Regions from separate parts of the Homo sapiens genome. Here region 2 is linked to region 1. Evidence: fine-mapped expression QTL. Tissue or cell type: whole blood. Region 1 holds a variant in brackets; the other region holds the start of a gene. All regions are shown on one strand. Distances are from middle to middle.

Region 1 (4,239 bases):
ACCAGAGAGACGGCCTCCTGGCATTTCTCTAATGCGCTCAGCAGTACAGGTTTTTGCAGTTCCAGGGACTTCTGTATCTCCTGCTCATTTCACCCTTAAATTCCCACCCACTTTGCAAATGGGGAAACTGTGATCACGTTCATCAAATTAAATGAGCCTGGACAAAATGATGTTTTCATCAAGGCAGGTGCCTTTTCTTCAGGCACTTTCCTTAACTCCCTGCCGCCCAGAAGACAGATCTGTCACACTGGATGCAGGGGCAAGCCCCCTCAGGGCTCTGGCAGCCTGCAGCTCATACCGCTGCCCTCCCGCCCTGTTCTGCACTTGCACTCAGTCCTGCCGAGTCCCCCCGAGAAGTGCCAGCCCTGCCGCCTGCCTCCCTCCTGCTCCGAAGGTGCCAGGGCCTGTGCCCTTCTCCAAACAGTCCCACATGGACTCTTCCTCCAGTTGCTCATTCCTTCCCATGGTACCAGCTTTTCCTTCCAAGCACCCCAACGTTGCATCCCCAGCCCAGGCCAGCTTACCCATGGCCAGCTGCCCCTGCCATCTGGTGAGGCATATAGACAGCAGCACCTTCCCCCACCCCTGTTCACCACACCCACCCAGGGAACCTGATGTCTGGTCAGGGCAACTCTTACTGACAATGTCTTCCAAACCCAGCCCCTCCCCTTTCATCCCACCGCCACCTCCAGCGCAGGCCGGGCCTCTTTACCTTGCGCCCAGTGGATCTCTTCCGGCAGCATCCAGCCTCCTCTTCGGAAAATGCTGCCCTGACGTCAGCACTCTCCTGCTCCCCTGGCCTCATACTCCCTTCTCCTCCTTCCAGGCCTCTGCCTCGCACTGACACCCCAACCCCACATTTCCTCCAGGGCCTGGGTCTTTCCCAAAGGCTTTCCTGACATTCCAGCCCATAGCACTCTCTCCCTCCTGGGAGCCTCCTAGAGCTGCTCTGTCCAATACAGGAGCACCAGCCACCTGCAGCTATTTAAATTTTAATTTTACTTCGTTAAAATGAAATAAAATTTACAATTTCATTTCTCAGCTGCACCAGTCCCATTTCCAGTGCTGGGCAGCCTCGTGCAGCTAGAGGCTCCCTTTTTGGACAGCACAGCCCTAGAGCTCGCCTGTCACCACAGGAGGTCCTGTGGGACAGTTGTGGTAAGAGGCCCTGCCTGTGGCACAGAGTTGAGAGGCACTCGGGGACCCGTGCTCTCACATGGAGGATTCTCCACTGTGTGGGTGTCTGGGCTCCCACCTAAACAAGGAACCCCAAGTGAAGGGCCACTCAGCCAGTAACGTAAGTGTTTGATGTACATTTAAGGATTCCACGCAGCTCCTCGATGAGAAGAAGGGACTGGCCTGGGATCACACAGGCGAGGCAGAGGCAGAGAAAACCCAAGCCCCTGACCCACAACCAAGCGCCTTTTCCGGATATGTTCCCTTCCACTGATGAGCAATGTCTGCTGTGGGAACGGCATCTGTGCTAGCAATCCATTTTTAATGACTCTAAAATTATTTTAATTGTTCTAGGGCCCGTGGAGTTAGGAGAGCACCCATCTGGCTGGGCAGCCACGAGTCCCTGGAGACCCCACCTTTGCACATGGTCCCTCCCTGTGAGGGGACGAGGCAGGAGCTGGGCAGACTCACATAAGTGTCATGGTCGTACAGCTCCACCACAATGCTGGGCGGTTGCTCAGCAACTGTGGCCGGCTCGCCAAAGATCTCGATCTCGTAGAAGATGAGCGTCTGGTCCCAGGTGGGGTTAAGGGTGTTCTTCACCACCACCGTCTTCTGGCTCTGGTGCAGGAAGGAGAC[G/A]ATGGCATAGGGATCTGCATGGGCCGGAGAGGGGGAGGGGAGACAGGACACAGCAGGGACCCTGAGAGATGTCTTCTCCAGAGCCATGTGGGGCCACAAAGCTGGAGCAGGGTTGTGGCTGCCACTCTGGAGCAACAACATTCATGCTGGGATGCATCTTCCCTATGGGGCTCTCCTAGCCCCACCATGAGGCCAGCTGGAGGCCACGGTGGGGACATGGAGCCTGGGTCCTGGCAAATGGGCACAAGATCCAGAGAGCATCCCCTTTTCTGCCGCTTCCTGAGCTGTGGCTGCTGGAAGCAGGGTCCAGCTGGGGGAAGTGAGTGCCTGTATGGTATATTCATCTATTCATTCATTCATCCAGCAAGCATGTATTGAGTGCCTTCTTTATGCCAGGCTAGGTGCTAGGTGCTAGGGGCTGAGAATACAATTTGAACTAAATATAAAATATCCACACAAGCTAACGTAAAATTACAATTTGGGTCAGAGCCTTGAAGAATAGACATAAAATGCAGTGAAATGTGTTAGGGAGGGATCTGGCTTCCTTGAGGAAGGGGAAGCAGAGCAGAGCTGCTGGTGTCTGTGAGCTCTGGGATGCCACCAGACTGACGTGGCTAGGTCTGCGTTTCAGCAAGCTCACTCTGGCTGCCACATGGAGAACAGACTGGAGGGAGCATGAGGTCTAGGGAGACCAGTTCTGAGGTCACTGCAGTGGTCCAGGGAGGAATAATGGTGGCTTAGATGGGTGTGGGGTGCTAAAGGGAAGTGCACAGACTCAGCAGCTATTTAGCAGTAGGGGTGTGCGAGAAACCCAAAGGCCCCTGCAGCTCCCTGCTACCCCCAAACTCCTTTCCAGCCTGCCAGCCTTGGCCACGCCACCCTGGGACCCAGCCACAACTCATTCCCTCTACCTTGTCCCAAAGGCAAGTTGGTGTCACTAGAGCAGACTCTAGGGCAGTGGTTCTGAAAATGTGAGCATGCTGCAGGATCATCTGGAAGGTTCATTCAGGCTGCTGGGTGCTGCCCCCAGAGACTCGGATTCAGCAGGGCCGGGGTGGGCTGGAGAATGTGCATTTCTAACAAGTTCCTAAAAGTGATGCTCATGCTGCCTTCTGGGACCACATTTTGGAAACCAATGCAGGAGAGGGTCTGAGTGCATATAACTTGGGAGAGGAACACAGGGCTTGGAGAAGGGGACTCCCTTCAGCTTCTCCTAATGGGATGTCACCTTGAGGGCTGAACCCAGTGCCTAACCATGCACTCAATACCCTTGGCACCCTACTCCATCCTGCAATGGCCTGTGCCCTCTGAGCCCCACAGTCCAGCCCTAGCACTGCCATTCACTCCCCTTGTGACCTCAAGAGGGCCTCAGTGGCCTCAGAGGTAATGGCCTCTGTGTCGCTGGCCTCAGAAGGATGCAGGTTCAAACACAACCCAGGGGCTGGGATGGGGAGACAGGGCTTCCGCACAAAGGGGAGAAGAGCAAGACAGGCTCCCTGGCCACAAGAAGACCAAATGGGACACCATGGCCACTGCACAGGTGGCAGAGAAAGGGGCTGGCAAGGAGTGACCAGGAAAGAGGTGGGAAGGTTGGGGTGGGCAATGGCAGGAAACCCATCAAGGGATGGAGAGAGCAGGATCCAAGGTTGTACCTGTTGCCCAAAGAGCTGATTTTAAGAGCAGGAGGTATCTAAGTTAAGGGGCGGACTCAGCCATGGCCACCCACTGGCTGAGCAATGCTGGGTCTGGTTAATAGAAGGCAGCCACCAGCCTGGGATCAGCCTGACAGCCATCAGGCACAAATCATGGAGGACTTCCTGCAGGAAAATGGTTTTGAGCCTGATTCTGTGGAACAGAAGAGGGCAATGGGAGGCCCTTGGCAGGGGAAGGAGCCAGAGAGAACTGCCCACCCCTACCTGGTGGGAGCCTCTCTGGCATGGGGCTCTCCTTTCCATGCACTGGACCTGGCAGGGCCGGCCCTGAGCCCTTTCCGTCCTGCCCCTGGCAGGGCCCAGAGGCATCTGTGCATTTAATGAAACCGTCTGGCTGTGATACCATCAGCTCCAAGCTCGGCAGAGAACCTCTCCAGGTTCCAGTAAGGAAAGGAGGGCGCATTCCGATAAATAAAACCATATTAGAGAGCCAGCGAAAAAGCCCCTTTTGTTCCCGCCCCGCCCCGTGCTTCCCTACGCTTTATTTTTATAAGCATGCGGGCCCCAGACCGACCGCGTTTACACAAAGATCACAATTGCACATTGTAGCGGCTGTGCACGCTGTATTGGTGTTGGCAGCACCCCCCACGCTGGCCCCCGAGCAGGCTGACTCCTTCCAGCAGCCCCATCAGCCCAGGCAATGAGCTCAGCGCTGGGGGGAGAACGGGGAGGGGGTGGCTTTCAAACAAAAATCACCCAGACCTACACACGT
Region 2 (4,239 bases), 130 kb after region 1:
GAATGGAGACATTGGTAGCCACCACAGGACTGTTACAGGACAAGGGAAAGAGCTGTGAGCAGACCCAAACGAGTGTTAGAGCATCCAGAGCCCTATGCTAATGTGTGCCCTGCCCAGTGTCCTTAGGGAATTTCTTTTCCAGCCAATGGTGACACCGCAATTTCTGCATAGCAAAGCCTTAGGCAGCATCAGGTGGACACTGGAGAAGGAAAGACTTTGTCTTGAAGTTGCTCTTGCATAGTGAACTCCCAGGCATGTCACCAATCAATGAAAATAGTGAAATTTTCTTAAACGTTTCAAATCACATCTTTCAAAAGAGGAATACATATAACTTGTCCCACAGCAAAGAATAAAAGCTACACATAAATCTCCCTTTGCCAAATCATGTCTTTCATCTATCATTATCTTGGGGGTGCTTGGAGATATGATTCAGATCATGGGTCAGACTGAAAAGAGTTCCCTTGGTGCCTGCACTGAAGGAGGCTTATGAAAACACCAGCTACTCTTCCTTCTTCATTTGACTATCTTTTCTGATACGTAGATTTTTATTATTATTATTATCGATTCCACAAAGCTACAGGGTATGGCTCCTGGCTAAGTGGAAACCCTCTTTCCTCTCCTGATTTATCTTTCTCTGCAGAACTGGGGTCCTGACTCACAGCTATTGTTCCTTCTCTTAATTTTGACAGATCCTTCCTCTTCCCTTTCCCCTCCTGAGACACCCGCTCCAGTGGGAATCTGCCTTGGAGGGGTTGGGGGAGGGGGTTCAGGACGCCTGGTGAGAAGAGGAGTGTGTGTGTGATTTCTCTGCTGCCCCACACAGAAATACCTGTATGTATTCTAAGCACTACATGTAGGGACTTAGCTTCTTGAATTTAGAGAAAATATCCTTGACATTCCTCAAAACTCCTTGTGTCAAGGCCATTTCCATCCTATTCTGTTCCTTTTCCTACTGATTAAGACGGGGCAGATTCAATACAGCCAATGTTGGATAAAGATGGGTGAATGAATGAATGAATGAATGAAAAAAGACACAACTTTCAAAGCACATCATCTACACGCCCCGTTTTTCAGAGGCCCTGATTCCTCTCTACCTTCTGCACCCATCTTCCAACTTACCCTTATCCCCACTACCCAGTAAAAGCTCGGACTTTATTTCCTCTGGGTGTCAGTCTTAGAAAAGTGATAACCGCTGACCTACGGCACTTTCGCTTTTCCAATTTTTCAAAGCCCTGTGGCATTTATTGTGCTCTGCTTATTCCTCATCGCCCCCCTGCAGAAGTCGGGGCTGGGATTTCCGTCCCTGCTGACAAAGGGAGAAACTGTGGCCTGGACTAGGGTTAGCTCCGGAGCAGGGGCTTCAGACCCGCCAGTGAGCGCCGAGAGTCGGGTAGCACCCGAGCATGGGCGCGGCAGCCACGGGGCTCTCACCTCGGAAAGTCAGGCTTGCGACAGGGTCGCTGCGCCGGTCCTTCTTCGCACTGGGGAGGTTGCTGGCCCTCACCAGCAGGCAGCACAGCATGGCTGGGCAGCCCCGGCGGCACACAGGCGCGCAGTCAGGGCGGGAGCGGGAGCACCGGGCCCGAGCACCCACCCAGCAAGCGCCCGGCTCCCAGGCAGCCGCGCCAAGAGAGCTGTCGCCTTCGCTGCTCCTCCGCGGAGAAGTGACCAATGCCTGGGAGAGGCTGCAGGGAGGACACCGGACACCCGCTGGGCGGACCCTCCCCCTCCGGCCCCTACCCAGATCCGCCCTGCCCGCGGCGGGCGGGGAGGGACAGGGGTCAGACGGGCGCCTGTGGGGGTGCTGGTCCCTAGCTCCGCGGGTCCCAGCTCCCGGCCAGGAACGAGGCGCCGCTGACGCGGGCGCGCAGCTCGGCCTCCGAGAGCGCACAAGGCGCCGTGGGGCCTGCTCCGCGGGGGCCTCCGGTGACCAAGGCTCCACACCAGCCAGGGATCCCGGGCCCGGTGCGCACCGGTGCCGACTTGGCAGCCGCCCTGTGCGCTCGACGAAAGGGTGAGAAGGAGGCAGGAGTGCAGGCGGAAGGAGTGGGCAATCAGCGGCGGGGACGAGAGTGTGTCTTCGGGGAAACCAAGTCTGAGTGAGCGCTGAAGGGGGAGTGTGCGGAGCGTGCCGTGCACCCCGAGCCCCCCGCCTCATTGCCTCTCGCCTCTCTCCACCTGCCCCATGATCTGCGCCAGGGAGCCGGTCCTCTCCCGTCCGCAGGCTGTCTAGGTGGCCGTTCTGGTTTGCTGGGACCCCCGGGTCGGGAGAGACTCCGAGGTTCGAGTCCCCACCAACCCTCCTCGGAGCCTTCTCCGCAGCGGTGTCGAGTCACTCATCTCTGGAGGCAGAGATCTGTATTCAAATCATACTGCGTTCCCTGGAGAACTAGGGTCCAGCTGCGGCCCATTCTGTCCCCTGCAAGTCCCCCATCCCCAACAATCTCTACACTCCCTAGTCTCCACAGTGGAAAGCTGTTCAAGGTGTAAGCCATGAACGGTGACAGTCGTTTCGCTTATTATGTCTGGTTCCTTTCCAGCGTATGAACTTCTTGACACAGGGGCCCTGGCTTCGCACTTCTATCCCCCAGCACTCCAGCACCTAGCCCCTGTCAGGGCACTGTCCGTCTTCCCACCGCCCAAGTCCTCACTAACCAACCTGCTCACTCAGCCTAAACGCACTGCTGCGCAAAATCTCAACTCCCTTTCCCCTCTCTTATTTTGAGGGATACAGCATTCTCACAGGGCTAAGCCATAACCCTGGCGAATCCAACTCCGCCTCCTCCACACCTGCCCCCAACCAGTGCTGTGTTGGAGAGTAACACAGCCGGCCTGAGTGGTGCCTTTTGTAGTCATGACCCTTAACTCAAGCGAGCCCTCACTGCTGGGGGCAATCATACTATATGTCTTGTCTCCCTGTCTCCCGGATGCCCCTAGGACACCCCATCGCCCAACCTCACTCTCAGTTTGCTTCCTCTTTACGGAGCAGAGAACTTCTTCAGGTCCCCAGTCTCCTTCTAACGCCCGCCCTCGGCATCTGTGCCCAAATCCTGTGAGTTCTCTCCTGTTCCTACAAATGAATCACCCGTACTCCCCACTGGTAACAACTGGACACTTGGGCATAGACCCCATCCCCTCTCGCCCATTCAGTGGTGAGCCTGCAGTGATTCTCTCACTCTCTTGCCTTACCAAGTTCCCCTGTTTACCGGATCATCCCATCGGCACACAAGCATGATGTTATTGCTCTCAAGAAAGCACACCGTTGACCCCACATCCCCTTCAGCTACTGGTCATTTCTCCCTTTTCACAACAATGCCCTTTGAAGGAGCTCTCCATACTTTCTGTCTCCAATCTCCCTCCTCCATTCTCTCTTGAACCCACCCAGTGACACCTTCAACCCCACCAGGTCACCAAAACTGCAAATCCCCCTCCCACTCTCCTTCAAAATATGTCCAAAATCCCACCATATCTCACCATCTCCATTGTAACTGCCCCCAGTGGAAGCCTGTCATCCCTTGCCTGAGTCATTTAATCGACTCCATGGACTCCCAATGCGTCTCCTGCTCTGCCCTTGTCCCCATGGTCTATCCTCAATTCAATTCTCATGACCTGGTTCTACTCAAAGTCTTCCGTTGGCTCCCATCTCACTCAGTGCAAAACTCAAAGGCCTTACGTGACCTTGAAAGCCCTGGCTGACCTCGCTGACCTCCTCTCCAGCCACTCTCCCCTTACGTGACCTTGAAAGCCCTGGCTGACCTCTCTGACCTCCCCAGGACCCATGCTAGCCTTCCAGCTGTTCCCCAGACAGGCCAGACCAGCGCCTCCCCAGGGTCTCTGTCAGCTGTTCCCTCTGGCTGGCATGTCTTCCTTTCCTTCAGATATCAACTCCAGTGAGACCAACCCGGCCACACAACTGAACACCACAACTTTCCCTCTTTCATCTCCCTTTCAGGCTTCTTCTCTAGCACCAATCACTGTATAGCACATGTGTCTTAATTGTTTTCTGTCTTCCCCATCAGAATGTCTGCTCCAAGGAGCCAGGGGTTTTTGTCTGTTTTGTCCACTGCTGTTTCCTCAGTGCCTGAAACAGCACCTGGTGCAAAGCATGGTCTCCATAAATTCTTTCTAAATGATGGACTGAAAGAATAAACATTCACCCATCACCTCTGACTTGCTGGGAATAAGTCACATCCCTGCCCTCAGGGAGCTTCCAGTCAAGGGGTAGAGACCACAGAGGGT

The links. PIP is the estimated chance that this variant, and not a neighbour inherited with it, causes the effect.
Region 2: DYSF starts here. The variant in region 1 is fine-mapped to the expression of DYSF in whole blood (TOPMed, PIP above 0.99).

Annotation. Positions count from the first base shown.
Region 1 is chr2:71,596,154-71,600,392 of GRCh38, reverse strand. It overlaps DYSF (dysferlin), which reads right to left. Exons shown (of 56, transcript NM_001130987.2): 33 at 1,648-1,829. Among named protein-coding and RNA genes, the nearest start is that of DYSF, 130 kb to the right of the region's middle. RefSeq lists enhancers at 1,371-1,870, 1,871-2,372. The variant G/A (reference allele first, on the strand shown) is at 1,816.
Region 2 is chr2:71,464,126-71,468,364 of GRCh38, reverse strand. DYSF (dysferlin) reads right to left here and starts at 1,666. Exons shown (of 56, transcript NM_001130987.2): 1 at 1,432-1,666. The coding sequence starts at 1,522.